Linked DNA regions of Homo sapiens. The protein of the gene in region 1 binds, or shares a complex with, the protein of each later gene. Each region holds a gene or a part of one and is shown in the gene's direction. Other genes may lie near its edges.

Region 1 (7,165 bases):
CCTCCCGAGTCGCTGGGATTACAGGCGCCCGCCACCGCATCCAGCTAATTTTTCTATTTTTAGTAGAGATGGGGTTTCACCATGTTGGCCAGGCTGGTCCCAACTCCTGACTTCAGGTGATCTGCCCACCTGGGCCTCCCAAAGTGCTGGGATTACAGAAGTGAGCCATCGTGCCCAGCCTATTTTTATTTTTTAAAAAATTTTTATTTTACTTTCTGGACAGAACAGTGTGAATATATAAAACCATGTTTTGAATCAAGAATGGTATCTTTAGGTTAGGTGTGGTGGCTCATGCCTGTAATCCCAACACTTTGGGAGGCCAAGGCGGGAGGACTGCTTGAGCTCAGGAGCCCACCCTGGGCTACATAATGAGACCCTGTCTCTACCAAAAAAAAAAAAGAATATTATGTTATCTTTTATATTTATAGGACCTGAAGTCTCCTTCCACATCCTACAAGCCTCTACCTCTCATTGAATCTGCTTTTTCTCAAGCACAAGCATCCAAGAGACAATATGTTGTACTAAATAACTTTTTTTGAGGCAGAGTCTCGCTCTGTTGCCCAGGCTGGAGTGTGGTGGTGCGATCTCAGTTCACTGCCAACCTCCATCTCTTGGGTTCAAGCGATTCTCTTGCCTCAGCCTCCCGAGTCGCTGGGATTACAGGCGCCCACCACCGCATCCGGCTAATTTTTGTATTTTCAGTAGAGACGAGGTTTCACCATGTTGGCTAGGCTGGTCTCAAACTCCTGACTTCAGGTGATCTGCCCGCCTGGACCTCCCAAAGTGCTGGGATTACAGGAGTGAGCCACCGTGCCCAGCCTATTTTTATTTTTTAAAAACTTTTTATTTTACTGTTTGGACCGAACAATGTGAATATATGAAACCATGTTTTGAATCAAGAATGGTATCTTTCGGCTGGGAGCAGGCTGGGAGATAAAAAAAAAAGAATTGTATCTTTAGGTTAGGTGTGGTGGCTCATACCTGTAATCCCAACACTTTGGGAGGCCAAGGCGGGAGGATTGCTTGGGCTCAGGAGTTCAAGACCACCCTGGGCTACAATAGTGAGACCCTGTCTCTACAAAAAAAAAAAAGTTATCTTTTATATTTATAGGACCTGAAGTCTCCTTCCACATCCTACAAGCCTCTACCTTTATTCAGTCTGCTTTTCCTCAAGCACAAGCATCCAAGAGACAATATCGTACTAAATAACTTTTTTTTTTTTTTTTTTGAGACAGAGTCTCGCTCTGTTGCCCAGGCTGGAGTACAGTAGCGCGATCTCGGCTCACTGCAACCTCCACCTCCCGGGTTCAAGCGATTCTCCAGCCTCAGCCTCCCAAGTAGCTGGGGCTACAGATGTGCGCCACCGTGTTGGCTAATTTTTTTGTATTTTTAGTAAAGATACGGTTTCACCATGTTGGCCAGCTTGGTCTCAAACTCCTGACCTCAGGTGATCTGTCCGCCTCGGCCTCCCAAAGTGCTGGGATTACAGCCGTGAGCCACTGTGCGCGCTGCTACGTAACTATCATAAACTACATTAAAAAGCATTCCAAGCTGGGCGCGGTGGCTCACGCCTGTAATCCCAGCACTTTGGGAGGCCAAGGCGGGTGGATCACCTGAGGTCAGGAGTTTGAGACCAGCCTGGTTAACACGGTGAAACCCCGTGTCTACTAAAAATACAAAAATTCGGGTGTGGTGGTATGCTCCTATAGTCCCAGCTACTCAAGAGGCTGAGACTGGAGAATCGCTTGAACCCGGGAGAAGGAGGTCGGCAGTGCACTCCACCCTGGGCAACAGAGTGAGACTTTCTCAAAAAAAAAATAAGAAAAAGAAAGAAAGATCATCCTTTCGCATTCTCCCAATATAACTGATTTAGGCAAGGGACATCAATGAATGCTAAAACCACATTGGGTGCAAGGTCAATGGGGAAAAGAATATTCACAATTTATTCTGCAGAAGGATGGGCTCAGTACCAAAAGACTGAAAAAAAAAAAAGAATATTCACACAATCTCTAAGTACCTGTGGATTACTTAGTAATTACACAGGGTTGTACCTTTGTGATGGAGCAATCTGGTGGTGACTACTTTATCAAGGTGATGAAATTTAGCATCACCAATACTAGGACAACACTGTATTTGACAGTGTACCTTCTGATGGCTGATAAAATATTTAACCTGGGCCGGGCGCGGAGGCTCACTCCTGTAATTTCCAGCACTTGAGGCGGGCGGATCACGAGGTCAGGAGTTTGAGATCAGTGTGGCCAATATGGTGAAACCCCGGCTCTACTAATCATACAAAAATTAGCCAGGGGTGGTGGCGCCGAGATCGCACCACAGCACTTTATCCTGGGAGACAGAGCAAGAGACTCCGTCTCAAAAAAAGAAAAAAAAAAAAAGGCCGGGCGTGTGGTGGCTCACGCCTGTAATCCCAGCATTTTGGGAGGCCGAGGTGGGCGGATCACGAGGTCAGGAAATCAAGACCATCCTGGCTAACACAGTGAAACCCCGTCTCCACCAAAAATACAAAAATTAGCCGGGCTTGGTGGCGGGCGCCTGTAGTCCCAGATACTTGGGAGGCTGAAGCAGGAGAATGGTGTGAACCCAGGAGGTGGAGCTTGCAATGAGCCGAGATAGCACCACTGCACTCCACCCTGGGCAACAGAGCGAGACTACGTCTCAAAAAAAAAAAGGAAACAAGAGAAATTCGGATCATGGAATGTTTTCAAGACAACTTGCCTGGATTCTTCCAAATATTTAGTGTCATGAAAAACAAACAAGAAGGCAGGTGATTCTGGACTAAAGGAAGATGACCAAATACAATGCATGAAACGTGAATGGATCCTAGTATTGGAAAAAAGGGAGAATGAGGAAGAGTGCTATGATGTGGTAAAGAAATTATTTCAGTCTATATTATCATAATATGTGAAAAAAGCAAGGTGAAAGCCGGGGTGTTGGCTCATGGCTGCAATCCCAGCACTTTGGGAGGCTGAAACGGGCAGATTGCTTGAGCCCAGGAGTCTGAGACCAGCCTGTGCAACATGACGAAACCCCGTAAAATGTTCCAACTAGGACAACTGGGGAAATTTAAGTGCGGACTCTTCCTTAAATAATATTGACTTACTTCCTAAAGTTGTGATAAAGGTACTTTGGTTCCATAGTTAAGATGCTTATTTTTAGGAGTGAAGAACAAGATGCCCATAAATGGTTTAGAAAAACAAAAATCCTAGCAAAATGTTAACCATTGTGAGTCTAGGTGAGGGGTCAGCTGTTCATTTTACTAAACTTTCACATTTTCCGAAATAAAACGTTGGGGGAACAAGTATTTTTTTTGAGGCGGGCTGGAGTGCAGTGGCCCGATCACAGGTCACTGCAGACTCCAACTCCTGGCTCCCACCTCAGACCCCCCAACAGCTGGGACTACAGGCACTGGCCACCACATCTGGCTAATTTTTTTGATTTTGTGTATGGATGGAGTCTCGCTTTCTTGTCCAGGCTGGCCTCATACTCGTGGGCTCAAGCGATCCTCCCACCTCGGCCTCTCAAAGTGCTGGAATTACAGGCGTAAGCCACCGCGTCCGGTCAAAAAATCAATTTCTAGGGAAAAATGTCAACTCAAAACAAGTAACCTGCATAGCTCGGGAATGCCTGTATAATTTACGTCAAGTCTCTCCTTGGGACGGACCGGTGAAATTGCACGCAGCACAAAGACCGGCTCTTACCCTTACTTCCGGGTATTGTGGTACAGGAACCCGAGGTTGCCTGCGCGTAAGCCACGTGACTCGAGCAGCTCCTTCTGATTGGAGGAAGAGCCACTGCTCTAATTCGGTGCCGTGAGAAAGCTCGCGCGCGGAGCAGTGGGAGCGGGCGGGACTGAATATTTTCTTTGACCAACCGCTTTCCACATATCCATCCTCCTGATCCCGTAGCGTCGAATCAAAAGCCGTTAGTAAAGTAGTTACTTCTTTCTCTTAGGATAGCCGGTCTTTCCGGGTTTTCCCCCCCTTCCCCCTCCCCTCTCCCCACTTCCCCCTCCCTTTCCCCTCTGTTTTGAGCTTCCGGTAGAGGCTGGTAGGGTAAGGGAGCTCAGTAAGTCACTTCTGGGCGACTGTTGTTTTATTTCCGGTCTATGGGACCCGGCTGCGATTTGCTGCTGCGGACAGCAGCTACCATCACTGCTGCCGCCATCATGTCAGACACGGACAGCGACGAAGATTCCGCTGGAGGCGGCCCATTTTCTTTAGCGGGTTTCCTTTTCGGCAACATCAATGGAGCCGGGCAGCTGGAGGGGGAAAGCGTCTTGGATGATGTGAGGGGGTGGGCGTGGGGGTAGGGCTCGGGGGGTGGGGCTAAGCAGAGGAAGGAGGTGCGGGGAGGAAAGGAGAGGGTGCTCAGGCAGCGAGAACAGGGCGCAGCTAACGCCGGGGAGGAGGATCCCGTCCTCATGGGTGCGGGAGCAACGTGGCGTGGGAGTGATCGTTCTGGGGGAGAGTGGGCAGAAGAGAGCGCGAGGCGAGCCCGGGGCCAGGGGCGCAGGGAATAGTGGCTTTGGAGCTAGCGCTCTGCCGACCAGACAGTAGGACACATGCTGGTTTCGCCTACTGAGATGGCTTCCCACCCGTAACCTGCTTGGAGATTCTTGACACTGCCTGCCCCTCTGACATCGCTGCCCTGAGATGGCTCTATAGAGCCAGAGGACTGGACAGGACCTGCCTCCCGCTCGTTTGGTTCCGGCCTCAGGCTTAGGACAATGGGGTGTTCCTAGCACCCGAGCGGGCCTCCTGGTCACAGTGCGCCTTTTAGGTGGCTCTCCCAGCGTCTTCACTGACTTTCGTGAAATAGTGTCCTGCGCCCTAGTGAAACTACCCTGCCTTCACTTAGGCCCGTTTTCTTGAGGAGTGAAGCTGTCGGCCGCTGTGGCCCCTCCTGTGCCGCAGGCGCATGCGAAACAGGGACCGAACGAGCCCCGCCTCGACGCCTCCAATCCCACTGATCCCCCTGCCTCGGCCCTCGTTCCGAGAACGACCGTTCCATTCATTCAGTCTTGGCAGTAGTTATTTGATTCGTCTTCTCTTGTAGTATACTTTAAAGTGTGGGCGATGCAGTTGGCTGTGGTGCTTTAATAAAGATCTGATCGATGCGGAGTTTGGTAGATGTATATTACAGTTCTCGAACGTGTTGCTTGTTTTGGCACACTGCACAGTCATTTTTCATGTGGATTTGTGACTTTGTCGTGGACCAGGGAAATAAGTCCTGTGGTGTGGGAGTCGTAGGTTTAGTTGTTATCTTCGACTCGTGCTGTCCCTTTTTCAGGAATGTAAGAAGCACTTGGCAGGCTTGGGGGCTTTGGGGCTGGGCAGCCTGATCACTGAACTCACGGCAAATGAAGAATTGACCGGGACTGACGGTGCCTTGGTAAATGATGAAGGTGAAGTCTGGGTTGTGGGGAGTAGGCGGGGGAGGAGGCTAGCCACCTACTATGTATGTACTTTTTTGTGTGTGTAAGACGGAGTTTCGCTCTGTCTCCGAGGTTGGAGTGCAGTGGGGCGATCTGGGCTGACTGCAGCCTCCGCCACCCGGGTTCAAGCATTTCTCCTGTCTCAGCCTCCTGAGTAGCTGGGACTACAGGCACGCACCACCACGCCCGGCTAATTTTTGTATTTTTAGTAGAGACAGGGTTTCATCATATTGGTCAGACTGGTCTTGAACTCCTGGCCTGAGGTGATCCGTCTGGCTTGGCCTTCCAAAGTGCTGGGATTACAGGCGTGAGCCACCGCATCCAGCCTGTACATGTACTTTTAAATGGGAATTATCTGAGGGAGTGAGGGTCGCTTACTGTTGTTGCGATTCTCCCTGCTTTTTTCATAGGGTGGGTTAGGAGTACAGAAGATGCTGTGGACTATTCAGACATCAATGAGGTGGCAGAAGATGAAAGCCGAAGATACCAGCAGACGATGGGGAGCTTGCAGCCCCTTTGCCACTCAGGTGATTCTTTGGTGTATTGGCTTGAACATTCCAGTGCATTATCCTGCTGTATAGTCCAGTTTGGGCTCTGGTTTCTATACCCGCTGTCTGCCATTGTTTCTGCTCTCTATGCCTTTGCTTTGGCTCCTCCACTCCCTTTGTCAGGTCAGTTCCAAGTAGCTGCTATCTTTTTTTGTGTTCTGGCCAGTCTTAACCGTATTCATGTGGTTATTCCTCACACTGTTCAGTCATGAATTCTTAGTTAATGACAAGTAGCTTTCTTGTCACCTGGTATTTGAATACCTACAGGGTTTGTGAGATACACTTCAAAGTTGGAAACTATGAAACAAATTCAGTTTTTGCCCTTAAGGAATGGATAGTTCAAGAAGGATACAACGTCATACATAAGCAATGAACTAAGGCAGGACGTGGTGGCTCACCAGATTACCTGAGGTCGGGAGCTTGAGACAGCCTGACCAATATGGAGAAATCCCGTTTACTAAAAATAAAAAATTAGCCAGGCGTGGTGGCGCATGACTGTAATCCCAGGTACTCGGGAGGCTGAGGCAGGAGAATTGCTTCAAACCGGCAGGTGGAGGTTGCAGTGAGCCGAGATCGTGCCACTGCACTCCAGCCTGGGCAGCAAGAGTGAGACACTCCGTCTCAAAAAAAAAAAAAAAAACCCAATATAAAACAACTGTTTTTTTTTTTTTTTCCGAGACGGAGTGTCTCACTTTCTTGCCCAGGTTGGAGTGCGGTGACACGATCTCGGCTCACTGCAATCTCCACCTCCCGGTTTGAAGCAATTCTCCTGCCTGAGCCTCCCAAGTAGCTGGGACTACAGGGGCCCGCCACCAAGCCCGGCTATTTTTTTGTATTTTTAGTAGAGACAGGGTTTCACCGTGTTAGCCAGGATGGTCTCGATCTCCTGACCTCGTGATCCGCCTGCCTCGGCTTCCCAAAGTGCTGGGATTACAGGCGTGAGCCACCACGCCCGGCCACATCTGGCCAATTTTTTTGTATTTTTAGTAGAGAAGGGGTTTCACCATGTTGGCCAGATTGGTTTCGAACTCCTTACCTCAAGTGACCCTGCTCCCCTCGGTCTCCATAAGTGTTAGGATTACAGGTGTGAGCCACCGCACCCTGCCTAAAACAATGAACTTGATACCTGCTTGCAAATATGTTTTTTTCCTCTCTGGTATAGGGT
Region 2 (7,325 bases), on another chromosome or scaffold:
TTCCTCTTGTAACACTTCCTTTTAGTTTAGGTGTTCGCCCTTAATGTACCTAGGGAAGCAGAACCTATTCAGAGCTGTAGTAGGTTCTGATAAATTTAATCTAATAATGATAATCTCATCCTCTTGACAGTGCTTAGTTAGGAATATAGACTTAAAATAATAAGCTTAAAGCAGGGCTTCTCAACCCTGGTACTATTTTGAGCCATATAATTCTTTGTGGTGGGGAGCTGTTCTGTGCCTTGTAAAATGTTTAGCAGTATCCCTGGTCTCTATATACTAGATACCAGTAGGACCCACCCCCCACAGTTGTGACAACCATAAATGTCTCCAGACATTACCAAATGTCACCTCACCTCTCCCCAACCATTTTCAGAAACACAGGCTTAGGGTATTTCCCTAGTATTACTGAGCTAAGAATGGGAACATGGCCTAAGTTGGTCCAGTTGGATTGAAAGATAGACTGTTTGGGGAGAGTAACTCTCTTGTCACGGACAATGAAGAAAGTTCTCCAGTTATTGCTGCTGGCTGGTATCTTGTGACTACAGCCTTTAGAATTCCACAAGGAGAGGAAAGCAGAGCTGAAACAACAGAAAAAGTATAAATAAGTGCTCATTCTTCAAAATTAGGAAGAAAAAACAATTTGTGCTACACCATGATTGTATCTGGCCTAGAGGCAGTGAAACTTCTAGACCTGCACTGTCCACTAGAGTAACAACCAGCCACACGTGGCCACTGAGCACTTGAAATGCAGCTAGTCTAAACTGAGATGTGCTGTAAGTGTAAAACACACACTAGGTGTTGAAGATTTAGTACAAAACAAGAATGTAAAACGTATTATTAATATCTTTACATTATTGTAAAAATATGTTGCAATTATATCTTAGATATATTGGATTAAAATTATTGAAATTTCACTTGTTTCTTTTTGCTATTTGAATGTGGCTACTAGATAATCTAAAATCACATCTGTGGCTGACCATCTGTGGCCCACATCATATTTCTATAGGACAAAGCTGTGCTAGACTACCTGTATTTTGGGATCATAGATTTTCTTACTGTTTAAACCAGCATAAATTAGATTTTAATGTTTTCCTATAGAAAACATCCTACTAGATAAAAGAACTGCTAAATATTTTTAGTTAACCTTTTTATCTTTAAAATATATGGTGATATAGCAATATGTAAGCTGGCTTTTCTGTGGTATTTGCTATTTCCTCACCCCTATAATTTTCTACCTCCTAAATATAAGCAGGATTTCTCCCATCACCCATAATTTAACCTCCAAAGTATAAGCAGCCCTTTAAGGAACTAAAAAGTGTATTAAAGGGCAGCTTATATTTTGGAGCCCTTTAAAGAACTAGAAAGTGTATTAAAGGGAATTTTCAAACATACACGATTATTAGTAACCTGATTGCCACACTCCTTAATCACAGACAGGAAGCCTTTGGAGGACTTGTTACCACACTGGGGAATTTATTGCTCTCCCCAAATCTTTTGTTCACTGGTATCACAGATATTCCATGGAACAACCACAGGAGTGTAATTCATCAATTCAGAGTTTTTCTGAATGTCTAATGGAACTTTTTTTTAAAAAAAAACTGGGGATTTATCAGTAGACATTAAGATAATGTGATGTGGCAGAGGCCTTAGGCCTTAGTGATAGGCAGAGGACTGCCACATCACATTATCTTTTTTTTTTTTTTTCTTTTTGAGATGGAATTTTGCTCCAGTGTTGCCCAGGCTGGAGTGCAATGGTGCAATCTTGGCTCACTGCAACCTTCGCTTCCCGGGTTCAAGCAATTCTCCTCCCTCAGTCTCCCGAGTAGCTGGGATTACAGGTGCCCGCCGCCAAGCCTGGCTAATTTGTTTTTGTTTTTGTTTTTGTTTTATTTTTGAGAAGGAGTCCCCTCTATTGCCCAGGCTGGAGTGCAGTGGCGCGATCTCGGCTCACTGCAAACTCTGCCTCCTGGGTTCACGCCATTCTCCTGCCTCAGCCTCCCGAGCAGCTGGGACTACAGGTGCCTGCCACCGCACTCGGCTAATTTTTTGTATTTTTAGTAGAGACGGGATTTCACCGTGTTAGCCAGGATGGTCTCAATCTCCTGACCTCGTGATCCACCCGCCTCGGCCTCCCAAAGTGCTGGGATTACAGGCGTAAGCTACGGCGCCTGGCCCTTTTTTTGTATTTTTAGTAGAAATGGGGTTTCACCATGTTGGCCAGGCTGGTCTCGAACTCCTGACCTCAGATGATCCATCCGCCTTGGCCTCCCAAAGTGCTGGTATTACAGGCATGAGCCACTGCACCCAGCAGATTATCTTAATGTCTACTGATAAATCCAATTTAAAAAAATATTTAGGGTCAATATAATTTCCTCCCCTAAAACAGCATATAGAAAATGTGTTAAACTCAAAAGCAGAAAATGTATTTCAGGACTGAAGGAGCTAGATACATTAAGAAAACCTCAGTTAATCCTTTTAACTATGTCTGGCAATATTCCATGTAAAGAAAGGTTTAGAAACTAAAATACACAGTAATTTTGGAAAATGAAAAATTGCATACAATTTATCTCAAGTTACCTTCTATGATAAGAATATTTGAGCATCATAAAACTCATAGGGAAGATGCTGAGTAATATTTGGATTATTTTCATGTATAATGACCTCACATTGTATATGGTTAAACAAAACACAGCCAGGCGAGGTGGCTCAAGCCTGTAACAGAAAAAACTTCATCTTTGAAAAAGAGGAAATAGATCATTCTGGAAATTACAAGTAAGTCAGCTAACATTCTTCAACACATTATAAGCAAAGAGAAATAATTTACCGTTATCTGGAAGGGCATACTTTCTCTTTTAAAATTAACATTAAAAACCAAACTAACGTCAGGTCATTTTAATTTCCTCCCACAACAGTATCTCATTCTAGCTAAACCACATTCACACACACTATTAGTAAACCTCCCCACCTCATAACAATTAGAATTGTCCTTGACTAGAAAGGAAATGTATGTAAAGTGGCTCTATCTCATTTTAAAATGACAAAGAATGTATTTTCTCTCAGAAATCACTACAGGATTTGAGACTATGATCTTTCTAGACAGATAAGTTTTTTCATTCAATTAGCAAATATTTTTTGTGTATCTCCCACATTCTGGTACTAGGCACTGGGACACAATGACCAGGATAGAAGAAGATCACTATCATGGAGCTTTCAATCATACAAGAATAAAGTGAATTTTGGAAATGTTAATTACATCTTAAGAGAATTCTCTTAAATTTAGGGGCAATTGTTAATATTTTAGAGGATAGAAATGAAATATTAATGGCCTTGATGCTCTCCCAGATATTTTAAAAATAAATGGAAATAAATAGAAATAAGTACCAACTGTTACCCAGTTATGTTAAAATACTAAAAATATGTGTTGATGAATACCTGACTATTGATAGAAAAGACAAGCAGAAAACAGCAAAATAGTAGAGGTGGAGTTAAAAAAAATGTCAAAGTAATTTAAAATTACTTGTACATGAGAGACAGGAAACAATACTTCAATTATATCTACTTTAACCAGATGCTCAGTCTATCAGACAATTCTGTCCAAAAGAACACTTCCTTCTCTGTTTACATTTACATCTAAATCAAGCACATAAAAAGGAATCACCCTTGTTTCCCCAGAAGTATTATAGAACACAAGTAAAACCAGAGGCACAATTCCCCTACAGGGAATTATATTTAAAAATACAGACTTTGGGCCATGCGCGCTGGCTCACACCTATAATCCTAGTACTTTGGGAGGCCAAGACAGGCAGATCACCTCAGGTCAGGAGTTCGAGACCAGCCTGGCCAACATGGTGAAACCCCTTCTCTACTAAAAATACAAAACTTAGGTGGGGTAGTGGAACGTGCCTGTAATCCCAACTACTTAAGAGGCTGAAGCAGGAGAATCGCTTGAACCCCAGAGGTGGAGGTTGCAGTCAGCCAATATTGTGCCACTGCACTCTAGCCTGGGTGACAGCCTGAGACTCCATCTCCAAAACAAACAAACAAACATATATATAGAGAGAGACTTATATAGTAAGCTGCATGTCCTCCTCACTCCATTGATTTGGGTACTTTGAAATCCATTGTATAGTAGCTACACATTCTTGTATTGGCACCAGATAGGCTAGACTCTAGGGAACATCCGAGATGTTTCCAGAAGCAAAGACGCTTACTGCAAGGCGTCCCCCATCTCCCGGAATCACCCGGAAGTCTAGAAGCCATCCGGCCCCACAGCGATCCCGTAAAAGTGCTGGCTTAGCGGGGGACGAATCTGTGTCTTTCTTGGAACTTCCAAGCTCTAAATAGTTTGAAACCAACAGCTCTTCCGAAACACTGTCATTTCCATCCCGGAAAAACAAGTTCTCGCGAAAAGATGAGTTTCACGCTGGGCAGCGTAATTGCGCTATTGCGCCTGCGCTAGCTGGGGCTCCGCCCTTCCGCCCGGAGGGGCTGTCACTCACAGCCGCCTCCCGCCCCGCGTCGCGACGTAGCACTTCCGTTTTTGCTGGGTAGGCGACCCGGACGGAGGGCCGGCGAGGTGCGGGGTCTGGTGATGCGAGCTGCGCCTCTCGGCAAGATTTCGCGCTGCCCATCCCGGGCCCTTTCATCAGTAATCGGTAGTGGATCACTCTGCCAAGCGGCAGGAAGAATTAAGGAAACGACAAGGAGACGCTCGGCTCTCTCCCGCTTGGCTCCTTGCGGCCTCCTCTTCCCTTCGCTCCGGCCCGGTGAAACTGAACTTATAATCGTCACTGGATTGTAAGTACCCGAGGCGAAGAGAGCTCGCTGAGCCCTGATTTTTTGAGTGTCTTTGTTCCGGGAGAGTTTGTGAGTTGAAAGTATCTCTGCTGGGCTTTCTGGGCCGAAAACCGTTCCGGGGGAGCCGCCATTTGCTTTCCTGTTCCCTAGCTAGCTAGCTAGCTCTCTCCGCGTTGTCCGGCAGCGGCACCTAGAGGTTGGGACTTGGCATTGCATCTGATTTAATGAACTTAAGTCTGTGAATAAGCCTTTGTGTTAACGACTGGTATTCGGTCACAGCATATTTAGAGAAAAGACTTGGAGCTTAAATAAAAACTAAGGCAAAATAGACGCTTAGCTGCTGATCTACAGAGAACTTCTTGTAATTAAAAGATTTCAATTCATAGCAAACTGGTGTTTTAAACTATTGCAGTAGCTGGAACTTTTTAGTGTAACCAGCATTTATTGGAGAAGTGAATCACAAGGAAATAAAGATGAGTAAAAGCAAAGATGATGCTCCTCACGAACTGGAGAGCCAGTTTATCTTACGTCTGCCTCCAGAATATGCCTCTACTGTGAGAAGGGCAGTACAGTCTGGTCATGTCAACCTCAAGGACAGACTGACAATTGAGTTACATCCTGATGGGCGTCATGGAATCGTCAGAGTGGACCGTGTTCCATTGGCCTCAAAATTAGTAGACCTGCCCTGTGTTATGGAAAGCTTGAAAACCATTGATAAAAAAACTTTTTACAAGACAGCTGATATCTGTCAGATGCTTGTATCCACAGTTGATGGTGATCTCTATCCTCCTGTGGAGGAGCCAGTTGCTAGCACTGATCCTAAAGCAAGCAAGAAAAAGGATAAGGACAAAGAGAAAAAGTTTATCTGGAACCACGGAATTACTCTGCCTCTAAAGAATGTCAGGAAGAGAAGGTTCCGGAAGACAGCAAAGAAGAAATATATTGAATCTCCAGATGTTGAAAAAGAAGTGAAACGATTGCTGAGTACAGATGCTGAAGCTGTTAGTACTCGGTGGGAAATAATTGCCGAAGATGAAACAAAGGAGGCAGAAAATCAAGGCCTGGATATCTCTTCTCCAGGAATGTCTGGTCACAGGCAGGGCCATGACTCATTAGAACATGATGAGCTTCGGGAGATATTCAATGACCTCAGCAGCAGCAGTGAGGATGAAGATGAGACCCAGCATCAAGATGAAGAAGATATAAACATCATTGACACGGAGGAAGATCTGGAGAGACAGCTACAGGACAAGCTAAATGAATCAGATGAACAGCACCAGGAAAATGAAGGAACCAATCAGCTGGTTATGGGAATTCAGAAGCAGATTGACAACATGAAAGGCAAGCTCCAAGAGACCCAGGACAGGGCAAAACGACAAGAGGATCTCATCATGAAAGTGGAAAATCTGGCTCTCAAGAACAGATTTCAGGCTGTACTGGATGAGCTCAAACAAAAGGAAGACCGAGAAAAGGAGCAACTCAGCTCTTTGCAAGAGGAGCTAGAATCACTCCTAGAGAAGTAAAAAGAACTGATATTTAATTTCAGTCTTCAGACTGGTCAGCATTAGAAAATTCTTGGCTTTATTGTACTGGGTATTAAGACCTTGCTCTTCCTAGTCCTTTTAATGCTGTGTGTTCTGTTAAGTTCTTTCATTTGTTTGTAATTTTGTTTTTCAGCAAATTTATATTGTTTTGCTAGGTGTTCATCCTATAAGAAGCAGGATTGTATAGGCAGAAAAATGATTGTAGGAAAGTTGCAGGATTAGCGGAATGTATGGTTCAACCTTAATTATAGCTTCATTGCAGGACTTTACTGTTTCTCCATTTTCTAGAAGCTGCTGTTGCTGCTTTGTGATGACGTGAGATCAATAAGAAGAACCTAGTCTAGAGACAATGATGCTAGTTTGCATATGTTTTCCTATGCAATAATTGTTTTCCCAGTTATTCAAAGCAGCTTTCTATATGTAGAGATGCAAATTATTAAGTTGTTTCCAATACAATAAATAAAAGCATCTGTTTTTCACTTTATAGTGTATCTTGTTCTTTCATGGTTGGTGGGAGTCAGGTCCTCTTGTGAGGTGGTTTTATGGTGGAGTTTAGTGACTAAGCAATTTGATCCCGTTCTGCAGGTAGAGGCAGTAGGGTTTATGAAAAAAAGGAACACAGCAGGGGTAAAGAAATTGGGAATGGTCATGTTTGCATCATATTAAGATTCCAATTCTATTTGATCTACTTGAAAGCTGGGAAACATTAGATACAGAGCTTTCTTAAAGTACCCTAATTTTTGTAGATGAAGGCCTTTGTGCCTTTTTTAAAAAGCGCTAAATCTACCTGCATAAAATGTTGGAAACAAAGCAGTGGTTATCAAGTGCAGTCCAATGAACCATTCCATTGGTTTGGATTAATATTTCTAATTTTCTTCAGTTGAGTTCCTATAATTAATATTCTGAGAACTGAGGTCATTTATCAATGTCATTTCATCAAAATTGCTCATAAAGGAAGTTGGTACCAAATTTCTCATGCTCTAA
Region 3 (7,023 bases), on another chromosome or scaffold:
CTATAGAATATTTTGAAAAGAATTTTCTTAATAAGTTATTTTGCCTCAAGTCTCAAAGCAGAGTTTGGCCACCGTTTTTCATACTTTCATCAGTAGCCCCAAACGTTCACTTTCCTTTAAGAGCTGCCCTGTAGCTTTGCTTCAGAAAAAGCCTTGAGGAATATTTGGTCTTAAGATAATTTGGTTCTTTCTAATATAGGGCTTATATCAAGGGTTAAGACAGCCTGAGACCCTGGCTGGATGTGCTTGATGGTCACCAAGACTGTACAAGTTTTGATTGACCATCCTGCCATTCTTAAATTTATATATATATATATCTTAATTACAGCTACTGTCAATTGAATACTTATAATATACCAGAATTGAGCATGGTGCTTCATACTTTCCAACTTCAGCTTGTTCTAATTCCAAAGCCTACATACTTTCCACTAGACCACAGGTCTTCCCAAGTAGTGTAATTAGCTAAAAATTCTCTTGATGACTTCCCTCATTCACTCACTCTTTCACCACAAATGTAAATACTTTCAGGCTGGGTAAATCATTTAATCATGATTACTGTGATTAAATAAAAGTTAACTTTAAAATAAATGAACAAATTTCTTCACCTGAGAACTTATGTAAAACATCTGACCTTACCCTTCCTCCCTCAAATACAGGGGGCAGAGGAATTAAATGAAAGCTGGGTTAAAAAAAAAAACAACAAAAAAACTGATGCCAATGTATAAAAGGGTATTGAGCATGTAAAACTCAGCAACTGTAGCAAGCATCCCATAAACATAAAAATCAATGTACAAGTGTTCCCTGAGTTGCAGCCTGTTCTTGTTAAGGCTAGATTCTCTCTCCATCTCCTCTGCTCTCACTTCCCCTGCAAATAAATTCCCTTATTCCACTGCTAATTTCAGAGCTAGAAAGAATTTATCTTCCCAGTTAGGTTTTCAGAAGAAGCCCGGGGTTTGTAGTTACAGAGGCATAGCTTGGATTCTGATTCTTTGATGTACAAATTATGAATTTGTGTAGATTACTTAACCTCTCAGAGTCTCAAGTTATTTGCATAATGGGGATAATTTGATCTACATGATGAAGCTGTTGAGGTTTAAACAATAGGTATGAAGTAGAACTAATGCCCAGTATATAGTAGGTATTTTCTAAAATAGGTTTATAAATTATGGCTATGTTCCTATGCCAGTCCACAAATGCGAATTTATACCACTTAGGATCAAGGGCATTATATGTAGTGATACAATTATATATGAAATTAAAATTCATGAAAACCTTTATGTAATAATTTTTTTTTTTTTTTTTTGGAGACAATCTCGTTCCATTGCCCAGGCTGGAGTGCAGTGGCGCGATCTCGGCTCACTGCAACCTCCGCCTCCAGGGTTCAGGCGATTCTTGTGCCTCAGCCTCCCGAGTAGCTGGGACCACAGGCATGTGCCACCCCTAATTTTTGTACTTTTAGTAGAGATGGGGTTTCACCATGTTTGCCAGGCTGGTCTCGAACTCCTGACCTCAAGCCATCCAGCCACCTTAGCCTCCCACAATGCTGGGATTACAGGCGTGAGCCACTGCGCCCAGCCACTCTATGTGATAATTCTTAGTCTTATCCTCACTTGGCTAGTTTAGTACCTTTCACATCACTTTCTTAAAACAGTTTCTTCACTTGGCTTTTGGGTCACCTACCTCATTTGCCACTTGTTTTGTAACTTAATTTGTCCTCTTATCTTTGGAGGGCTCAAATCTCACTCCCTAGAGCAAGCCCATGTATTTTTATGGCTTTACATATCATTGACAGGTTCCAAATTTTTATCCTGCCTATTCAGTATCTCTGCTTAGAAGCAGACATCTCAAATATGTCTAAAATGAACTCCTGATTGCTCCCCTACCCCACATCACCTCCCTGCAAAAGTGGCTCCTGCTGCTTTCATCTTCAGGATTTTATCCAGAATATAACTGTTGCACAGCCCCATGGCCACACGAGGTCCATGCCACCATAATTTCTTGCCTCAATTATTGAAATATTGTTTCTTCCCTTGTCCTCTTACACTCTATATTGAACACAGCAATCAAAGCATTCCTTTTAAAATGAAAGTTGGCTCCTGTTACTGCTCTGCTCAAAACCCTTCGATGGCTTCCCATGCCACGCAGTGTGAAAGCCAGAGTCCTTATGATGGCCTTCAAAACCGCATGATCTGGCTGTTCCCCTCATCCTCAATCATAGGGTTTGGTGCTTTCCTCCTTCCTTTCATTCTGCTCCAGCCCTAGCCTCCTTGCTTTTTCTTGCCAAGTGTGCCCTACCCCTGGGCCTTTGTATTTGCTGTTCCCTCTGGCGAGATACTTATATTGCCTACTTCCTCTCTATCTCCATCAACAGATGATCTCAGGAGATGTCAGATGCAGCACCCTGCATCTGGAAGTGTGCTGGAAGCTGGAAATAGAAATGGTTTAGTTCTAGGACAGAGCCATGACATAATAGGTCCTCAGAAAATGATTGCTGACTTAATAAGAGAAAATAAAAAAGGAGCTTTCAGTTGATTGTAGTTTACAATACAATATAAATAAGCAGTACGTTACTATTTCTATTATCAATTTAGGGAACAAAAATATCTACAGTTACACAAAAATGGCCACACATGGTGGCACTAACTAGATTGTCATGAGTGACCCAGAAACTCACCCTTTGGGAGTGCTTGTGTAACAGTGTGTTGAATGCAAGAGGCAGGCCACACAGTGCAAAATACCCAAAGAAGATGAAGAGGTCTCTCAGAGATGGTTTGTATTACAAAGTTATCTTCTTCCTCAGCTAAACAGGAGACTCCTCCAAAGAGTTCTACTCATCTCTGGGTTCACTTCACAGAACACATTGTAAAACATGCTCAGTAAAATCCGCTATATTGAATTACATATAACGCCTTGAATTGCACCTGAATGTCTTTTCCTCCTGCCTATCTCCACTGTGTATACTCTATTGTATCACGTGGTGTAAAGATCTTGGTTTCCTCTGCCCAATTTAAAGAATGTATGACACAGGGGGGTGCCGTAAGGGAAAAACCCTACCATTGTTCGTTGACAGTTGATGAGCTGAAGCCACTTACTTCTGAGCCATGAGGGAGGTTTTACTAATAATTTTTCTACTTTGGAGCTCTGTGATTATTTGGATCTCTGCAGCGTAGTATAGGGCTGCCCTTCCAAAGTGTGTTGAGAAGGGCCTTAAAAGATGATATACAAAAAAAGGGGGATTCCATAGCCAAATAAATTTGGGAAGTGCTGGATTAATGTTACTGGTGTTCTTTACTGAAGGATATCTCAGAAAACTTACTGTGCCAGCATGCTTTATGAATCCTCAAGACAAGGTTTACAGCATTTCCCAAGTGTTTGGCTATGTTATCTTGTTTGTGAGGCACTGTCCAGGAACTAGTGTTTCACAAAAGAGTATTTTGAGAAACTCTGATCAAAGTGTGAACTCTGGTAGGAACTTTATAAGGAGCATTTCACTGCCTTTCTGGATTGCTATGAGAAGCCAATTTTAAAGCCAGTAAGTGGCTAAGTGGACATTAAAAGGGTCTTTGATGTCATCTGGTAATGTAATTACTGAATATGAAATAATGCTTTGGTTTTTTAACCCTAGACTTGGAATGGAAAATTATCTATGTGGGCTCTGCAGAAAGTGAAGAATACGATCAAGTTTTAGACTCTGTTTTAGTGGGTCCTGTTCCCGCAGGAAGGCATATGTTTGTATTTCAGGTAAGATTAATCTTGGTAAATGTGTATGCCAAATATGTTTCGAAGTAGACTATATTATCTATTATCTTATAACCCTTATCCCTTTCCTTTTGGGTTAAAGAACTGCTTCTGCTGCATTCACTTTAAATCTGTTTCCATCATGTTTTAGGCAGTCTCTGTGTCACAGAGGAACTCTTACTTCCTGGTTTTATATGCTGAGAGATGTTAATGTGACGTTTACTTTAGAGAGATGAACAACCTACAGTAAATTTTATACTGTATCATGGCACACAGGGTGGTGAATTTGGGGCTCTTCCTGTGAATAGCACCTCAGTATCAGACTTCCAAGGTGGCTGTCTAGCAACCCAAAACATGGATTCAAAATATCTAAAACTAACTGGCATTGTTAGTAATATGCATCTTCAGTTTATGGTTTCAGCCACTGGAACTGATGGTGATGTAACAAAAACAACTTTATTTCAGCATAATCAGTAGTTGAGCTAGGTTAACAGATACGTTTAGTGGATAGAGATGTGTGGTCTTGGGTCATTGGAATGACATTCCAGAGTTTACTAAAGCATCTTATAATCTACATTATCTTATAAGAGGACTACTTTTGCAAATTTACTACCCCACTAGGTATTTGTGAAGAGAATTTCTAGTAATAAAAATTTTGTTCTTAGATACCACTGAGAGTATTTGGATCTATACCAAGGCTTCAGACATTGTCTTCTATATTCAAAAGTGTTATTTCTTTTAATCCATGTTAAATTGCTATATGGAACCATTCAGTTATTCCTCAATTATGCATGCTTATTTATAAGGGAGATGTTTGTAATAGACCAAAGAGTAACTAGCCATAGGTTTTTTAAAACTACTATTAATTTCTGTTACAAGTATTTCAACCCAGCAATGTCCCATCAGTTAAGTGGAACTCACTGAAAAGACTTAATCCAGAAAGAAAATCTAACTCTTCCTATGCCTGACCTCTGTTTTCTCACTTCACAGATGGGACCAATTTAAATGAATACCATTGGTCAAATAATCCCATCAGAAACTGGCAAAGAATCACTTAGACACATGCCATCTCTAGAGCTGCTACCTTTCCCTCCCCTGTCCTAAATACAGAATTTAGAATCTTGGTTTCCTAGCCTTAGTACTTTTGATTAAAAAGCAACAAATAATTTACTGTATCTAAAGAAATAGCTAAGAAAAGCTCAAATATACTAATCAAATATATGAATTAAAAGTGCTGTTAATCAAAGTTGTGTGAGTGCATAACCATGTAAAAGACATGGGTAACAGAATGCCCTGTTCTGTAGAAGGAAGCACTGCAGTTATAGATATAGGTCAAATCCCGACACCTCTGTATTAGCCATGTGTGGCTTTACCTCTCTAACCTCCTCCCTTAGTCATTCCAGTCTTCTATAAAATGTGGATAATATTCTATCTCATTAAAATGTTATGGGGAATAAAACAGTATAATCAGTCACTCATAAAGAGTGCCCTATTCCTAAAATTAGAACTACATTTTTATTCTCTTAACTTCTTGAAATTGTTATATAAAAAAGCAGGACTTGCTCTGACCCACAGGCCTAAGGAACCCATACTTTACTGATAATTCATGATACAGTAAAAGAAACCTGGGTTGACAGGTACTGATAATACTTTTTTTTTTTTTTTTTTGGCTACTATAAGAACTTACAAATAAATGCCTTGTTATTGAAACAAACCCTTGAAAATCTTTTGTGTTTGTTATTAAGCATACTCCTAAGCTTTTGGCTGAAAGTGCTGTAGCAAAAAAAATGTATTCAAAAGTATTTCCTGCTGGTGATCTTCACGTAGTTTTACCTTGGTGTCAGTGTACATGTTGCCAAAAAGAACAGAGGAGGTACAATGTATATTCAGCCTAAAGGTTTTACAGAATTCACCATTATCAACAGAAAGAGACTAAATTACAGCTTTTGTTTTGTATTTTAAAACTACTATAGTAATCTCTTGGTCTGCCATGATTTTGCCTCTCTAAATAGTTAAACATGTCTTTCTTCTGAGTGAGTCAAAGGCTAGCAGGAAGATGTCCAGACATCTGCCTAGTATTGCCAGCTAGAGTCAAAACAAAGATCTCTGCTCATTACTTCTGCATCCTAAATTATTTGAAAGGCCTGTAAGCTTCTCTACTTAAATTTGCTCAAACTGAATCTTTTTCAAATTGTAAAATGCTTTTTAAAAGATGTTTTATATTTACAACAGATTTTAAAACAGAAACATGCCTAGAACCAATTTACTGAAGGGAACCAATTTACTGAAGGGAAGGGGAAGAGTTCTCATAGCAGTACTGAACTATTATATATTTCCCATCTCCACCCACTTCAGGTATATTAGAATCCGTTTGGGTACACTGAAAGTAATCTAACCCCTCTGTGCAGGGGTGTGTAGAATCTCTAAGACAAACAGCATATTCTCCAGGACAAGGCTGGCTGTCCCCTATCCTGGTGTCTTGCCAAGAGATCATAAACCCCTTCAGGGCAGGAACTGATTTACAAATGAATTCCAAAATACTAAGTGCTCAGAGCTGAGCCACACGAGATTATAAAGATGAACTGGATGGGACTCCTGCCCTGGATAAAGCATAGCATCTAGAAGAGAAGACTGAAAAATAAACATGTTTAGATCACAGGGCATACGTTCTTAGATAATTTGTGACAAGAAATATCAGCACATAAAAAAGGAATCTATTGATTCTACCTTCTGAGTTAGAAAGGGCGTCACTGAGAATACACTCGATGTAAGCTCCAAAAAAGATTAAAAGATGAATTTTTCAGGATGTGAGCGAAGGACCTTTCAGGCCAAGGGAACAGTATGTTAGAAGCACAGGGGGTGAAGTATTTCTTTTTTAAATTTGTTTTTGTAGAGATGGGGTTTCGCCATGTGGCCCAGGATAATCTCAAATTCCTGGGCTCAAGTGATCCACCCACCTTAGCCTCCCAAAGTGCTAGGATTACAGGCGTGAGCCACCGTGCTCAGAGCGTGAAAAGATTATCACCACGTTTTAAAGAACCTGTGTGATTCATATCTCTAGAACAATGGTGGAGTTAAAGGAGGTATGAATGGAGATATTGGCTGGAGACAAACTGAGAAGGGCCTTGTCAATGAAGTTAAAGAACTGAGATTTTATCCCTTAGAAAAGGGAATACTCTTCTGAGGGTTTTAATAATCTGAGGTTTTAAAACCAAAGAGAAAGAACATATCTGTGTTAATGCTGGTAGCAGTGCAAATGATAGGCTAGAGCTGGGGAGATCAGTT
Region 4 (7,023 bases), on another chromosome or scaffold:
AACTCTTGCTCCCTTGATCTCTTTGACATCTGACCCTCCATGTATTTCTTTAGTTCTTCTTCCTTTTCTTTTTATATATAGGTATTCCTCAAAATACCTGAACCTGTTTCCTCTTGTTTCTTCCTTGTTCATATCATCCATCATGGTGACTTTAGTTATCTCAACAACACTCTTTCTCTCATGCACTCTGTCCTGTTTTCTGATCATCTGTATTATATTTCAGCTGCCGAGTAGGCATTGCAGACTAAATGTTCATCAAACTCTGTGTCTAGGGATTGAGCTAATAATCATTGTCCTTTTCTATTTCCTTATTTCCTGTTTCTGTTCATCACTACATTTATCACTCACCAAGGCTCAAAGCTTTCTTTCCCTTTTTTTTTTCTTTAAAAATAGGGTCTCGCTCTGTCGCCCAGGCTGGAGTGCAGTGGCGCAATCATGGCTCATTGCAGCCTCAACCTTCTGGGCTCAGGTGACCCTTGCACCTCAGTCTCCCAGGTAGCTGGGACTACAGGCACGCACCACAACACCCAGCTAATTTTTGTATTTTTTAGTAAAGATGGGGTCTCACTATGTTGCCCAGGCTGGTTTCAAACTCCTGGGCTCAGGTAATCCTACTCCCTCGGCCTCCCAAGATGTTGGCATTACAGGCATGAGCCACCATGCCTGACCAGGCTCAAAGCTTTGAAATTGTGTTTGAGTCCTTGCTCAAGTCTTATACCCTAATCATTTATCAGATTCTATCCATTCTATCCTCAGAATATCCTTCACCTCTGCTGCTTCCTGATCATTTCCACTGTTCTAGCTCTGACCCTTACTGCCTCTCACATCACTTCAGTAATCCATGTTATTGCTCTCCTTCAGTACCCATCACCTCCCACCCTCATCCATCCTGCGTGTTCCTGCCAGTGTGACTTTTCCCAACACATACCCCACACGTTTTTCTCTGTTGTCTAAAATCCTTCTAGGTCCAAACTACCAGTAGAATAAAGATTATGTTTCTTTTTCTGGAATTCAAAAGTCCTAGGATCTGGATGCAATTTTACTAAACCTGCTTCCTACTGCTCCCCACCTTGCACTCTACTTTCCAGACAAATAATTTTCTGTTTCTCTTACACTCCCCGTGTTTCACCTTCATCTATTTGTCATCTGACCCTTTGTCCTGGACTTCACCACTTCCAGTCTCCAACTATCCCAAACGCTGCATAATTAATCAAGCCTCCTCCGCATGATTGACCTCGCTGAGATCTGTCTCTCCTTTGACCTGCTGTAGCACTTTATCTGTCTGTGGCACTGATCACTTTCTGTGGGCTAGACATATCTGTTATTGCTGCACTAAACTGTGAGCTCTTTTAGTTGTGATTTATTTCTGATTTATTTCAGTGGCTCTTTTAGACTTTATCATTGTACATTATATGCTTAGTTAAAATGTGTTGGGAGAAATAATCTGATCTTAGAAAAACTCAGCCAAGTAGGCAGGGCAAGTAACATCGGCTCCTTTTTGAAAGATTAGGAAACAGGCTCAGAGAGGTTGAGAGAGTCCCTAAGGCTGGTTGCTCTCTAGTGCCGTAACTCTAGCCGAAAAACCATTTGTCAAGTGCCTAAACCAAGTGTATTTCATTGCACCATACTCCCTCTCCAAGTGGCTCACATCAAGCAAGCAAAATAGAAGACATAAGTAGTATATGAATTTGTCATAAAAGTCCTAAAAATACCTGTCATTCCTGATAATAATAATAATCCATACTAAGTCCTATAATAATCCATCTCTTGATTTTTTAGAGGGTGTGTGGGTGCGCACGTGTGCTTCTATGTGCATGAGAGAGAGATAGAGAAAGATGGCATTTACTGGTTAGGAAAATAATTAATTCAGGAAACAACAGAAGGCCAACTGGAAATACCGAGCAATTTCCAGATCCTGAGGTTAGGGCCAGACCATGTGAAAGGACAATGATCAATTTGTACATCTGCTGTTACTGACTGCCACTCTTTTAAGAATGATGGCACACATGTTTGGAAGATCCTTGAAAACTAACTTACTTTTTAAACACTGTCAATAATTTCCTTTTTTTTTTAGAAATCATGTTTGAACGCCGCATGTTCTCACTCATAAGTGGGAGTTGAACAGTGAGAACACATGGACACAGAGGGAGGGGAACATCACACATCGGCACCTGTTGGGAGGTCGGGGGCTGGGGGAGGGATAGCGTTAGGAGAAATACCTAATGTAAATGATGAGTTGATGGGTGCAGCAAATTAACAGGGCACATGTATACCTGTGTAACAAACCTGCATGTTGTGCCCATGTACCCTAGAACTTAAAGTATAATAATAAAAAAGAAAGAAAAAAGAAATCATATTTGAAGCATTGTTTTTATTTCTTAGGTTTTGTTACATTCCAATAATATTTATTTTTTTCTTCCTTTTTCTTCCTTTACCAGAAGAAGAAGAAGAGCAGGTGCCCACTGATGGAGGCACATCAGCAGAAGCCATGCAGGTTCCCTTGGAAGAAGATGATGAATTGGAGGAGGAAGAAATTATTAATGATGAGAATTTCCTGGGCAAGAGACCACTGGATAGTCCTGAAGCTGAAGAACTGCCAGCCATGAAGCGGCCTCGGCTATTAAGCACTAAAGGGGACACGCTAGATGTTGTGTTATTGGAAGCTCGAGAGCCACTCAGCTCAATAAATACTCAAAAGATCCCACCAATGCTTTCTCCAGTCCATGTACAGGACAGTACAGACTTGGCACCTCCCTCACCCGAGCCGCCAATGTTGGCTCCAGTTGCAAAATCACAAATGCCAACTGCAAAACCATTAGAAACAAAGTCATTTACACCTAAAACAAAGACTAAAACTAGCTCTCCAGGACAGAAGACTAAATCACCTAAAACCGCCCAGTCACCAGCAATGGTCGGAAGTCCTATTCGATCACCAAAAACTGTATCCAAAGAAAAGAAATCACCTGGACGTTCCAAGAGCCCCAAGAGTCCCAAGAGCCCCAAGGTCACGACTCACATTCCCCAAACACCTGTGAGACCTGAAACGCCCAACAGGACTCCTTCAGCTACACTCAGTGAAAAAATCAGTAAAGAGACTATCCAGGTAAAACAAATACAGACACCCCCTGATGCTGGGAAACTGAACAGTGAGAATCAGCCGAAAAAGGCTGTGGTAGCAGATAAAACGATTGAGGCCTCTATCGATGCTGTGATTGCACGAGCCTGTGCTGAGCGAGAGCCAGATCCTTTCGAATTTTCTTCTGGATCGGAATCTGAAGGAGACATTTTTACTAGCCCTAAGAGAATTTCAGGCCCGGAGTGTACTACTCCCAAAGCTTCCACTTCCGCGAACAATTTCACAAAGTCAGGATCCACTCCTCTGCCTCTTTCCGGTGGAACCTCAAGTTCCGATAACTCATGGACAATGGATGCCTCCATTGATGAGGTTGTACGTAAAGCAAAACTGGGAACACCTTCAAATATGCCCCCCAACTTTCCTTATATCTCTTCTCCGTCAGTGTCTCCTCCCACTCCCGAACCTCTCCACAAGGTGTATGAGGAGAAAACCAAGCTGCCTTCCTCCGTGGAGGTAAAGAAGAAGTTGAAAAAGGAACTAAAGACTAAAATGAAAAAGAAAGAAAAGCAGAGAGATAGGGAGAGGGAAAAAGACAAGAACAAGGACAAAAGTAAGGAGAAGGATAAAGTGAAAGAGAAAGAGAAAGACAAGGAAACTGGCAGGGAAACAAAGTATCCCTGGAAGGAATTTCTTAAAGAGGAAGAGGCAGATCCCTACAAGTTTAAAATCAAAGAATTTGAAGATGTTGATCCCAAAGTGAAATTGAAAGATGGACTTGTGAGGAAGGAGAAAGAGAAGCATAAAGATAAGAAGAAAGATAGAGAGAAAGGCAAGAAAGATAAAGATAAGAGAGAGAAAGAAAAAGTGAAAGATAAAGGCAGAGAAGATAAGATGAAAGCCCCAGCACCCCCACTGGTGTTGCCCCCAAAAGAGTTGGCCCTGCCCTTGTTCAGCCCTGCCACAGCCTCCAGGGTCCCAGCCATGCTGCCATCTTTGTTGCCAGTGCTTCCGGAAAAACTGTTTGAGGAGAAAGAGAAGGTGAAGGAGAAAGAAAAGAAAAAGGACAAAAAGGAGAAGAAGAAAAAGAAGGAAAAAGAGAAGGAGAAGAAGGAGAAGGAAAGAGAGAAAGAGAAGAGAGAGCGAGAGAAGAGAGAAAAAGAGAAGGAGAAACACAAGCATGAAAAAGTAAGCAGTTTCTCATTTTTGGCCCTATCTGAACAGAGTCCTAGTGAGAAACACAGGTAAACAAAGCCCACAATTATATCTGTATTCTGGGTGTAAATCACCCATCACTTAAGTGGAAATATGTTTATAATGAGGTTACAAAATTTGATTTTAATTCTAAAACCCATAAACCTGTAATCAAGCCCTCAACACACTAGCAGATGTTAAAAATTCATAGCCTAAGAGGCATCTAATCACAGACTATAAACTCTCTATTAGCTATAGTGATCTCTGGCAGCTTAAAAAAAACAAATCTGGGTTCTTAAATTGTGAATAATATTTATGTGAATTATCAAGTGTACTGCATTATATTTTGCACCCATATATTGAGAAAGGCAGCATCCATGTTTCTAAAAGCATGCAAAACCACGGCACTATTTTAAGAGGACAGCAAGGCCCGTGGAAGGACCACTGCCTTGGTTTTCTTTTTGGTGCGCCATTTTGGCATGTGTTTAGGATTATGCCTGTCTACAGAACTTTCCGTAGCATCTTTTATTCCTTCCGTTTTCTGCTTTAATAAGATAAGGGCACATTTCTGAGTATCTAGGCTGATCTGGCAGCCTGGTGAGTGGGCAGAAAGTAATCCCACATGGCAGAAATGTTTGACCATCTCAGTAAGTCAGACTTCATTTCATAGCATACAGCCCGACAAACTGATAGAAACCCCGCAGTTTTGTAGGCATTGGGGCCTCAGTCCTCAGGCTGTGACCTCTGCTTACCCAGCTTTGCTTTTCAGTCTGTGGTTTCTTGGATTACAGCAGCCGGCTGGGTTATTTGAAAATTTCTCATAAACTTTCCGAAAAAGTATCTCTTCATAGTGCCACCCCAGAGCTCCTGATGATCCTTTCCCTGCCCTCTAAAAGTTATCTTCTTTGAGCTTGGCCACAAAATAATACCCAGTAGTTTTGTTCATATGATAAAATTTGATGTATTTGACCTGCAGCAGATATATTACCAATAAATTCGGAGTATTTTTAACTTCAAACTTACCTAGAAAACTGAGTGTATTTGACAGCAGTAATGGCAACTCCCATTTTTCGCCTACCTTGATTTGTTCTTTGTTCTCTTTGGCTATCCTAAAATATAAAAAAGTGAAATGGGAATTCTGATATCAATAACTGAACATTGACAAGTTAACAAGACACAGAAATCCAACTCTTATTTCCATTTAAAAAATCATTTTATTTATTATTATGCAATTTCTATATAGTAGTTGTCAGGTTTTAAAGCAGATCCATACACCTTGTTTTCTCCTCCTAACACACCTGTGACATAGGTCCAGCAGGTATTATCATCGATATTTATGGAAGAGAAACTGAGCCTGAGAGAGTGACTTGTCCAAGATCAGGATGACACAGCTAGCAAGAGCCAGGTCAGTTACACTGCAGAGAGACTTCACGTGGTGAGGGGTTTGTTGTTAGAGATACTGCCTGACAGCAGTTAGTCATTTATCCCTTGTGTACCTAGTAAGTTGGCAGCTGAGCCCTCAGTAAATCAAACAGGGGACTGTTCCTGTCACCACCATCTTCACTTTGGAAAGTCAGTGGAGTTGTTTCAACAGCCATTATGAATTTGAGTGAAGCCATCAGATTAGGTTTGTAACAGCAGTCCCATGCCTTTCTACAGCATCTACCTGACTTTAGGGAAGAAAAGTCCCCCAGACCACCTTGGTGGAAGGCAAAGGCTCAGTCCCTCGAAGCACAGAGTCCACCTGAGAGAAAGATACATGTTCTTGGATCAGTTTTGCTGGGCTATGGAGCAGGTACATGGCAAAAGATAAAAATGTAGAAAATTCAGCTATCTTATAAGACCTTTATAAATAATAAATAGTAATGTCTATAGAATTAGACCTGAGTTCAGATCCTGACTTTTGTAAAATGGGTAAGTCATTTATATAAGGATTAAATGAGAACATACAAGGTGTGCTTAGTACCGTATCTGACGCATAAATGTCAGTAGATGGAGAGAGTGTTCCATTCTGAATCAAACTATAAAATGTAGGAACCTGGAGATTGCTGCTCCATTGGACCATATCAGCTAGCCTGTGTTAATATGGGCAGGTCAGCTATTAATAGGTTTTAAAAATTATTCTACTTCCTTGGCATTCTTTGGAATATTAGCCCTTGATACAAATAGGAAAGGATAAAGGTTAGGACAACCCAGGGAAATGCCATTGATAAGGAGTAGAAATTGGGATAGTAACATAAATGTTAAGACTTCCCTTTCTTCAACCCCGTTTAAATCCCCCAAGCACCACAGCATATGAGTAAACAAAAATACACCTGAAATGCGGTTCCATATGGTCCGAGAATTTTCCTACAAATCTACAGAAGTAAGGCACCAAAGGTTAAACTAAAGTGAGACATATCTGCTCACTTTATGTGAGCAGCTTTATGTAAGGCACCAAAGGTTAAACTAAAGTGAGACAAGCTGCCCCAAGAAAATGTTTTCAGCCAAAAGAATGAAGGCCACAATCTCATTTTCCCTTCTCATCATCCTGACCAAGAGCAACTCTCCCAGACACTGACCCAGATCGGCAAGCAAGAGCATTTGTTTAAATTTTTCAATCTCCACATTTATTTTACCTGCTTATAAAGCTGATACCAAGAACCAATAAAGATGTGATTAATTAAAACGGAATTTGCATGGTAGGTAGAAGGAGCTTTGGGCTTTGGAATCCAGCAGACCTGGAATAAGATCCAGGACAAGTTTTTTAGCTTCTT

What was found.
Region 2: the proteins of TAF1 (region 1) and TAF7 are in contact, whole or in part, in a crystal structure (PDB 4RGW), measured with the Homo sapiens proteins. Residues at the interface, in NP_004597.3 of Homo sapiens: Gln591, Ser593, Pro602, Phe603, His617, Arg618, Pro619, Pro620, Leu621, Lys623, Tyr624, Gly633, Pro634, His635, Ser636, Val637, Gln638, Pro639, Leu641, Lys642, Arg651, Arg655, Phe664, Phe665, Met666, Asp671, Leu672, Thr673, Gly674, Lys675; in NP_005633.2 of Homo sapiens: Glu11 (codon at 5,301), Leu12 (codon at 5,304), Glu13 (codon at 5,307), Ser14 (codon at 5,310), Gln15 (codon at 5,313), Phe16 (codon at 5,316), Ile17 (codon at 5,319), Leu18 (codon at 5,322), Arg19 (codon at 5,325), Leu20 (codon at 5,328), Pro22 (codon at 5,334), Ala25 (codon at 5,343), Val28 (codon at 5,352), Arg29 (codon at 5,355), Val32 (codon at 5,364), Gln33 (codon at 5,367), Ser34 (codon at 5,370), Gly35 (codon at 5,373), His36 (codon at 5,376), Val37 (codon at 5,379), Leu39 (codon at 5,385), Lys40 (codon at 5,388), Asp41 (codon at 5,391), Leu43 (codon at 5,397), Thr44 (codon at 5,400), Ile45 (codon at 5,403), Glu46 (codon at 5,406), Leu47 (codon at 5,409), Pro49 (codon at 5,415), Arg57 (codon at 5,439).
Region 3: the proteins of TAF1 (region 1) and ASF1A are in contact, whole or in part, in a crystal structure (PDB 3AAD), measured with the Homo sapiens proteins. Residues at the interface, in NP_004597.3 of Homo sapiens: Asp1417, Lys1420, Ile1421, Thr1423, Thr1459, Tyr1460, Asn1461, Gly1462, Lys1464, Trp1527, Asn1534, Lys1536, Phe1537, Val1538, Pro1539, Gln1589, Tyr1590; in NP_054753.1 of Homo sapiens: Val6, Asn7, Asn8, Val9, Val10, Arg69 (codon at 3,721), Val92, Val109, Tyr111, Tyr112, Asn114, Thr120, Glu121, Arg123, Glu124, Leu140, Ser142, Pro144, Val146, Arg148.
Region 4: TAF1 (region 1) and TAF3 share a complex: the UniProt entries of both Homo sapiens proteins name them as parts of the TFIID basal transcription factor complex.

Annotation. Positions count from the first base shown.
Region 1 is NC_000023.11:71,362,192-71,369,356, forward strand, and holds the start of TAF1 (transcription initiation factor TFIID subunit 1), read left to right. Parts: upstream 1-4,165; 5' UTR 4,166-4,183; coding exon 4,184-4,303; intron 4,304-4,358; exon of another isoform or gene 4,359-5,307; coding exon 5,308-5,422; intron 5,423-5,862; coding exon 5,863-5,979; intron 5,980-7,165. UniProt on the Homo sapiens protein: The TFIID basal transcription factor complex plays a major role in the initiation of RNA polymerase II (Pol II)-dependent transcription.
Region 2 is NC_000005.10:141,317,990-141,325,314, reverse strand, and holds TAF7 (transcription initiation factor TFIID subunit 7), read left to right. Parts: upstream 1-4,530; 5' UTR 4,531-5,270; coding exon 5,271-6,320; 3' UTR 6,321-6,825; downstream 6,826-7,325. UniProt on the Homo sapiens protein: The TFIID basal transcription factor complex plays a major role in the initiation of RNA polymerase II (Pol II)-dependent transcription.
Region 3 is NC_000006.12:118,897,141-118,904,163, forward strand, and holds part of ASF1A (histone chaperone ASF1A), read left to right. Parts: intron 1-3,625; coding exon 3,626-3,741; intron 3,742-7,023. UniProt on the Homo sapiens protein: Histone chaperone that facilitates histone deposition and histone exchange and removal during nucleosome assembly and disassembly.
Region 4 is NC_000010.11:7,961,482-7,968,504, forward strand, and holds part of TAF3 (transcription initiation factor TFIID subunit 3), read left to right. Parts: intron 1-2,438; coding exon 2,439-4,261; intron 4,262-7,023. UniProt on the Homo sapiens protein: The TFIID basal transcription factor complex plays a major role in the initiation of RNA polymerase II (Pol II)-dependent transcription.